Regions from separate parts of the Homo sapiens genome. Here region 1 is linked to region 2. The links come from fine-mapping of genetic effects on gene expression. A gene starts in region 2. The other region holds a variant in brackets. All regions are shown on one strand. Distances are between the middles of the regions. Region 1 overlaps RAB6A (RAB6A, member RAS oncogene family). Region 2 holds the start of COA4 (cytochrome c oxidase assembly factor 4 homolog).

Region 1 (4,403 bases), 170 kb after region 2:
CGGCTCACTGCAACCCCCACTTCCTGGGTTTAAGTGATTCTCCTGCTTCAGCCTCCTGAGTAGCTGGGACTACAGGGATGCACCGCCACACCCAGCTAATTTTCATATTTTTAGTAGAGATGGGGTTTTATCATGTTGGCCAGGCTGGTCTTGAACTCTGACCTCAAATGATCCACCCGCCTTGGCCTCCCAAAGTGCTGGGATTACAGGTGTGAGCCACCACACCCGGCTAGATCTTAACTGTTTTTAGTAAACATGTTGGTGATGATGTTGGATATTGTTATTTCAAAATGATTGTCTGTATTCTGCATAAAATAAATGAATACTTTGCTTAATGATTGAGAACTGGCATTTTGGACACGGGAGATGGAAATACAGATATAAGATTAATAAAGTTAAATATAAAAAATATAAGCATGGGGGCCGGGCGCGGTGGCTCACGCCTGTAATCCCAGCACTTTGGGAGGCCAAGGCGGGTGGATCACGAGGTCCGGAGATCGAGACCATCCTGGCTAACACGGTGAAACCCCGTCTCTGCTAAAAAAAAAAAAACACAAAAAATTAGCCGGGTGTGGTGGCGGGAGCCTGTAATCCCAGCTACTCCGGAGGTTGAGGCGGGAGAATGGCGTGAACCTGGGAGGTGGAGCTTGCAGTGAGCCGAGATCGTGCCACTTCACTCCAGTCTGGGCGACAGAGCAAGACTCCGTCTCAAAAAAAAAAAAAAATATATATATATGTGTGTGTGTGTGTATGTATATATATGTGTATATATATGTATATATGTGTGTGTATATATATGTATATATGTATGTATATGTGTATATATGTATATATGTATATATATGTGTATATATGTATATATATGCATGAATTCATTACATTTTTTAGCATTTGAAAATTTTTAATATTTTCTAGCTCTGTCTACTGAAAAGATTTAAACCAGGAGGAATGAGCCCACATTACCACATGTAAATACGGTTTCTTTCCAAAGGAACCAGGGCTACTTGAAGAAGTGACAAATTAGGCATCTGGGCCAGAAAATGTAAACAGTGGGGCTGGAACATGTCATACCATAAATCAAAGAAGTTATTAAAGACCATTGAGGTTATGTCAGATTCAGGAGAGCCAACTCAAAGAAGCTCTACTGGTCAAACTGTAGGAAAACTTGAAAATCAGTAATTACTATAAAACATGTTTAAATCCACGAGTCATAATAATAATAGTAATAATAATAATAATAATAATAATATACTTAAGGAGAAAACTCATTGGTCCCCTTTGGAAGATGCCAGAGACTGACTCGAGCATTTATCCTCCTTTCCTCTCCCTCCCTCCGTCACTCCCTCCCTCCTTGTTCTAAGTACCTCAGGATAACCAAATAATTGAGAAAGTTTCTTTCTAAAGAAGTATTTAATTTGCTATAAAGGACATTGGAATAACTGGCAGTAAAGGACATTATTGGGATAATTGACAAGAATAAAACCTATAGATTCAATGATGGTATGATGTTGATGTTAATTCCCAGATTTAATAATTGTACTGTGGTTATATAAGAGAATGTCCTTGTTTTTAGGAAATTCACACTGCTGAAGTATTTAGGGCTAAAGGTCTGCAGATTGGCGGTTTACTCTCAAACAGTTTTTTAAAAGTGTTTCAGAAAATTTATATACACAGAGAGAATGAGAAGATAACACAAGCAAATGTAAAATCTTAACAGTTGGAGTGTTATGTAAGAGAATGTTCTTGTTTTTAGGGAGTGGAGAATTCTAGAATAATAATTTCTTGTAGGCAAGAAGGGAGTGGGATCTAATACATAGATGTAAGTTTTGAGAATAAGGACAACTCTTTCATAGTAATAGGACTAGAGGTAGGATATAAGGGCACACTTGCAAGTAAATGGAAGCTTGTGGAAATTCTCTTCCATTGCCCATTTTCTGTGTTGTAGGAAGCAGGGTTTGTCAGCTGATAGTTTAAATCTAGCTAATTAGAACATTTGTATATTTATGGAATACTTATCTGCCAGCTTAAGCATTAGGAATACCAATATAAATGACATAATCTTGCACTTGAGATCTCACAATTTGAGACATAGTGCTAATTGTAATGCATCACAAAATACCCTGTAAAGGTAATATTAAAGTATTAATATTTTGTATCTAGAGGCTTTACCATACATGTCTTTGACTCACTT[ACTTC/C]ACTTACAGAAATCCACAAAATCGGCTGGGCACGGTGGCTCACGCCTCTAATCCCAGCACTTTGGTAGGCTGAGATGGGTGGATCACCTGAGGTCAGGAGTTTGAGACCAGCCTGGCCAACATGGTGAAACTCTGTCTCTACTAAAAATACAAAAATTATTCAGGTGTGGTGGTGGGCGCCTATAATCCCAGCTGCTCAGGAGGCTGAGGCAGGAGAATCGCTTGAACCCAGGTGTTGGAGGTTGCAGTGAGCTGAGATCGCGCCATTGCACTCCAGCCTGGGTGACAAGAGCAAAACTGTCTCAAAAAAAAGAAAACCACAAAATCTAACCTAAGGAAATGATTTGCAGTGCACAAAATATTAAGCACAGATATTTAGGGCAACAATTTTCATAGTAGTGTAAAATTGGAAAGCAACTTGCATTCTAATAGTTTGGGAATGGTTATATAAATTATAGGAGCAAATTGACAGAAATTGTTTAGCCATAAAAATTGTTTTACACAAAGATTTGAATTTTAAGGCTAAAAGCCTGTGGTCTGATATTAAGGGAAAGAGGCAAGCTATTAAGCGTTTTTTGTTTTGTTTTGTTTTTAGCTTTTTCTTTTTTTGAGACAGGTTCTGTTGCCCAGACTGGAGTGCAGTGATGTGGTGGCCTAATAATGGCCTGCTGCAGCCTCAACATTCCTGGGCTCGAGCATCCTCAAGCTATTAAGTTTGTAAAAGTAAAAAAATTACAGGATGAGCCCAGTCAAGTGAAAGCAAATCAGTAACAAAAAAAAGTCTTTAAAAAAATGTTAAGTATACACACACAGAAACACACAAATTTCAAGAGTGTGGCAGATTAATGAATTTTTAAACTAATGTGACCTGTATAACCAGTCCTTATATCAAGGAAAGTTATTTTCAGAGCTTTCTTTATAATCTTTATAATACTGCCTCATGTCTCAAAAGTAAGAAGTTTGTTTGTTTCTTTACAGGCAAGTGTCAATTGAGGAGGGAGAGAGGAAAGCCAAAGAGCTGAATGTTATGTTTATTGAAACTAGTGCAAAAGCTGGATACAATGTAAAGCAGGTAAGTTGAGTTGAGGTTACCAAATTGAAAAAATATGAAATAATTGTGTGAGTATTCTATTCTCTGGTGTATAGGTTTCCTTCCACCTGGCAAGAGCAGGCCTTACAAACTAGCAGTATATTTTCAAACAGTGAAAAATATAAATGTGGCATAGTTTTTGGAAAAAGAGAAAAGACTTGCAAACTTCAGATCGTGGATAGAACTACTGCAAAGTGGTAAATCTACCATATTGTCACTACATTCCTACTACATTGCTTTAAAGGTAAATTTTCTTTTCTTTTTTTTTTTTTTTTTCTTTTTTGAGATGGAGTTTCGCTCTTGTTGCCGAGGCTTGAATGCAATGGCGTGATCTCGGCTCACTGCAACCTCCACCTCCTGGGTTCAAGCAGCTCTCCTGCCTCAGCCTCTCGGGTAGCTGGGATTACTGGCATGCGCCACCATGCCCAGCTAATTTTGTATTTTTAGTAGAGATGGGGTTTTTTTCATGTTGGTCAGGCTGGTCTCAAACTCCTGACCTCAGGTGATCCGCCTGCCTTGGCCTCCCAAAGTGCTGGGACAGGTGTGAGCCACCATGCCCGGCCGGTAAATTTTATTTCAGAGTTTGATGCCAAGACTGAGATAAATGAAAGCAAGTATTTACTGTCAGTAATGGTGTTCCACTTCTTGTTGTAAAAGTAAATTCTGGTTACTTTATCCTTAATAAAATGCTGGTGTTTGAACAGTGTTTACAACAGGTCTTTTTGGGGGAGGGCAGGAAAATATAGGGAGATGTCACATTATCAAGCCATTTTCTACAAGATAGGTCAGCCAGAGACTCACATGCTTAACTCTTCAAGGCTGTATATCATGTAGGGTAGTGGTCCCAGATTTATAAGATTTATGGACCAATAATTTTTTTTTTTTTTTGAGATGGAGTCTTGCTCTGTCGCCCAGGCTGGAGTGCAGTGGCGCGATCTCGGCTCACTGCAAGCTTCACCTCCCAGGTTCACGCCATTCTCCTACCTCAGCCTCCCGAGTAGCTGGGACTACAGGTGCCTGCATCACGCCTGGCTAATGTCTTGTATTTTTAGTAGAGACGGGGTTTCACTGTGTTAGCCAGGATGGTCTCAATCTCCTGACCTCGTGATCTGCCTGCC
Region 2 (4,403 bases):
TTGGACTTCAGTAAGTCCAGTAACTTAAGGTGACAGTGAGACCTTTAAGCAGAAATATCTAGCAAACAACTGATCAATCTCTGCTTGAACATGGAGAAGTCAGGGCTGGGGCTGTAGATCTAGAAATTATCATCAAGAAAGTCCCAGTTGAAGCTGCAGAAGTGCTTAGAATACAATAGCACAGGGTAAGTGACTAATTAAGATGCATCAACAATGTCTCCATGAATAAGTCTGTGGCTTTCAAATGGAAAATCAATCTGAAGGCCTTCCCTTGGAATGGAGGAGTTGGGGTGTTGGCCATACAGTACAGACTGGTCAAGCATGTTTGCAGACTATTATGTAAGGAGGCTGGGCCAGGAGAAAGTAGGAAGCTTTCTTTTAAGGGTATTAATCCTTCTCCTTTAAAGTCACAGCATATATAATTCATGGGTATTACCTGGGGGATGACAGCTCAGCCAGGCCTCCCCTTCATCCTTCCTACGAAGAAAGACAAAAGCCTAATTAGGCTTACCCAAAGTTGAATAGGATCCCATAGTTACAAGGGAAGAAAGAAGGTCATGTAACCTCCAGCTTGGTCATAGTACTTAGACATGAGATAGTCCAACCTCTCATCGAGTATAGATCATTCTAAGACAGACAAACTTTATTTGTTCAAGAAATATTTGTGGATTAACTATTTAATGAATAGATATCTGTTGGTTAAATTAATGCTCATCCATCAACAGTGAGCTCACTTTGAAAAATCAAGGTTATTTAATTATTTATCAGGATTATTGTAAACCAAGCCCTGTGCTAAGCACTTTCCATACACAATCATTAACCCTCACAATAACCAAACAAGATTCCTTTTATTATTTTAGCACCTGCCCAATCATCCAAATCCTGATCTCTTCACCCTAGCACTTTTAGGGTATAATGGAAAGGGTCTATGCATTTAAGACAGAAAGATCTAGGTTGACAGCAACCCTCTATCATTTGACGAGATGCATGATCTTGGGCAAATTAAGCCTTCTGATTCTGGTGCTGTATTTTCTCATAGGTAGCTAGTGGCACTTCATGTTATTGTTCTTTATTACTTATCACATTCTGTGTACTAGCAACTAGTCTGTATTTTAGCCCACCTAAATTAAGTAAGGTATAAATTTAGTAAGGTGTAAATTTCTTAAATGCAGAAGGCTATGTTTCATTCATCTTCACCATTGTTTCAATTTGAAAAACCCTTATTAGTAGTAGCAGTTGCCAAATATAGCACTGCTATATTCATCCTGAAGCCTAGAGAAATAACTGGAATAGTATAAGATCAATAAATGTTAGATGAATGAATAGTTTGCTGTGTATTCCTAATTAAGACGTCAGCTTTTCTTCTTTTTTGAGATGAGTATCGCTCTGTCACCCAGGCTGGAGTGCAGTGGTGCAATCTCGGCTCACTGCAACCTCCACCTCCTGGGTTCAACCGATTCTCCTGCCTCAGCCTCCCGAGTAGCTGGGATTATAGGCGCCCACCACCAAGCCCGACTAATTTCTGTATTTTTAGTAGAGACGGAGTTTCACCATGTTGGTCAGGCTGGTCTCGAACTTCTGACCTCAACTGATCCACCAATCTCAGTTTTCCAAAGTGCTGGGATTACAGGCATGAGCCACTGCGCCTGGCCTGGATGTCAGCTTCTTGAAGAGCAGGAACCATCACTTATATTTAGAGTATACATCTGAGCTCCACCAAGCATCCAGTATGGGGCCTGGACACAGTATTAGTTTCCTTAATAGTATCGTCCAGTATGCCTAATATAGCATTAGGGGCCTAGGAGAATACAAAGGTTCCATCACATACACAAAGTGGTGGTGAGTACAGAGACTTCTGGAAGTAACTGACGACTAATCAATATTTGCTAAATGACTGCTTGGCCAAAAGCCTTCCTGCCTCCCAGTATCCCTGTCTTTCTCCAACTCACTGATACTAGTTCTGACGCGGGGATCACACAGCTCATGTGCTCCCTTGGCCTAGGGATAGCTTTTCAGAGAATGACCATACGGGTTTGATACTTCTTTTTCCGGACCCTGTTCCCTCCATATCCCTCGACAATTGACGAAGTAACCCCTATTGATATCCTGGACCAGGCATGGCTCTCCTTGACGCAAAGCAACATCCACTACCCGCCTCCTCTGACTCTGTTCTGGGCCTGGATTCACCTGAGGGCTTGCGCCCAGTCGCTCTGAATCCTCAAAGGCGCCGCCATCTCGACCCCGCCTCCACCAGCCCACCTCTTCCGCCCCTTCCCGGAAGTGAGTCCCCGAGAAGCGTGCGGCGAGGACAGAGGTGGGCTCAACACCAAGAGGCCACCAATGAAAACGTGACTTTTTCACATTCCCCGCCCCTTCCGTGTGCACGCTCCCCACGAGGGGCTGGTTCCTGAAAGGATGTACAGAGGATCCCCAACCGCCTGCGAAACCCAAGCCGCCGCGTAGGAGCGTGCGTTCGGGCCCTCTTCTCCCACCTGTTCGGTGAGCATCGCGTACCGCGTTCTTCAGGAGGCGTTGCGGGCACAACGGGGCTGCGATCAGCGGCCGCGCGCGCGCATGCGTCCTCAAAGTTCAAAGTCCTCGATACGCCTGAGGCGCCTCAGGCCTCGTGGCTGCCAGCATTTTTCTGCTTTAAGATCCTTTCCATGACTTCCTTGTTTAGGCCAGCCTCCACGATCCAGCTGCCAACCATCTAGCCTACCCTGATCTCTGAGCAGGGGTCGTCGTCATTTTACTCCAGAGGAGACTGAAGCCAAAAGGTGGTGAGAGGAGAGTACAGCAGCATTTACTGAGTCCTATAGTAGCCCAAGCGCTTTTCATTCGTTATATTAATCTTCATTCTAATTGTGCGAATTAAATATTATTAATGGGAAAACTAAAATGAAAAAGATTACATAGTAAGGCGTAGTGCTGGGATTTGAACACGGATCTCTTGGTTTAGGATCAAGGCACTTTCTATTCCACTGTTCTTTCTCTAAATTATTTGCTCCTGGCCCTATTTAAAGAGTTAACAGTGTATTTAGGAAGAGAAAACTATCATTTATTGAACTCTTTAGACATACCAGCCTCCTTACAAACCTTACCTTTTTTTTTTTCTTTTTTTTTTTTTTTGAGACAGGGTCTCCCGCTGTAACCCAGGCTGGAATGCAGTGGCGTGATCACGGCTCACAGTGTTGCCCAGGCTGGGCGCAAACCATCCTCCCGCCTCAGCCTCCCAGTGTTGGGATTACAGGCGTGAGCCATGGCACCCGGCTTCATCTCTGTGCTTCCAGAGAGGTTATTAAATGATGTGTCCAAGGGCACCAAATGAGGCAGTGACAAAGCTAGGTCCAAGTCTGTTTCAAAGCCCATTTTCTCCCTCTTGCTTAAGTTATACCGCCTCCAAGGCAAATGAGTTGTGTAAAGTGCCTAACTCCCTCTTGTGATTCCCCATTGCCCTCAGAATAAAAAGTCTTAAACTCCCTACTATGTCCTACAAAGCCTTGTGATGATCACTTACTTATATCGCCAGTTTAATATTGTCTTATTCTCACACTGTATTCTCCCATCACTGAACTTTTTTTTTTTTTTGCTCTCATGTGTCAGATTCTATCTCAACCACCTGCTCTTCCATTGACCAAAAATAGTTTTCCCATCTCTGGCTAACTTCTGTTCCATCTGTCAAGTTTCAGCTTGGAAATCACTTCCTCTAGGAAGCCTTCCCTGCCTATTCCTGCCCTTGTCTGGATTAGGCATCCCTCCACTGTGGTCCCAGTCTTTGCTATCTGTACACTGTGTAGTAAACTGCCCTGTTTCCTTGTCTAGGTTGTAAACTCCATGAAGCCAGGAACTTAACTGACTTAGACAGTCTTGAATCCTCAGCACTAGCATAGTGCCTGGTACATGATAGGTACTTAATCATTTGTTGAGTGAATGAGAGACACAGTTAAGGCAATAAGGAGTCCTAGTTGCTTTACAGCCCATCATGGTGAAATTTTTGCAAAGGCTGAAGTCATTTCTCTTCAAACCTTAAGTTCCTTCTGTATGCTGCTTTCTGCTGAGTGTTCTGATGCAGACGGGCAAGACAGTTTGGGCAAATAAATACACCTCACATTTTTGTATAGTTTACAAAGCCATCTCACCTTATAGACCCAGAGGCCAGGTTTCTGCATACTGTATGCTACAGCCACAGTGAACTCTTTCCATCCTTCCCATGTGTCAAAACCTACCCATATTTGGGCACTCTTTCACTTTGTTTGTTTGTTTGTTTTGGAGATGGAGTCTCACTCTGTCACCCAGGCTGGAGTGCAGTGGCACGATCTTTGGCTCACTACAACCTCCGCCCCTTGGGTTAAAGCGATTCTCCTGCCTGAGCCTCCCGAGTAGCTGGGATTACAGGTGCCTGC

Evidence for each region. PIP is the estimated chance that this variant, and not a neighbour inherited with it, causes the effect. A credible set is the group of variants that fine-mapping cannot tell apart.
Region 1: its variant is the best candidate, but not a certain one, in a credible set for the expression of COA4 in whole blood (TOPMed, PIP 0.73).

The regions. Positions count from the first base shown.
Region 1 is chr11:73,706,284-73,710,686 of GRCh38, reverse strand. It overlaps RAB6A (RAB6A, member RAS oncogene family), which reads left to right. Exons shown (of 8, transcript NM_198896.2): 6 at 3,174-3,267. Among named protein-coding and RNA genes, the nearest start is that of RAB6A, 53 kb to the left of the region's middle. The variant ACTTC/C (reference allele first, on the strand shown) is at 2,192.
Region 2 is chr11:73,874,853-73,879,255 of GRCh38, reverse strand. It overlaps COA4 (cytochrome c oxidase assembly factor 4 homolog), which reads left to right and starts at 2,410. Exons shown (of 2, transcript NM_016565.3): 1 at 2,410-2,499. It overlaps PAAF1 (proteasomal ATPase associated factor 1), which reads right to left and starts at 2,257. Exons shown (of 12, transcript NM_025155.3): 1 at 2,188-2,257; 2 at 437-477. The coding sequence starts at 2,234. RefSeq lists enhancers at 2,020-2,089, 2,110-2,159.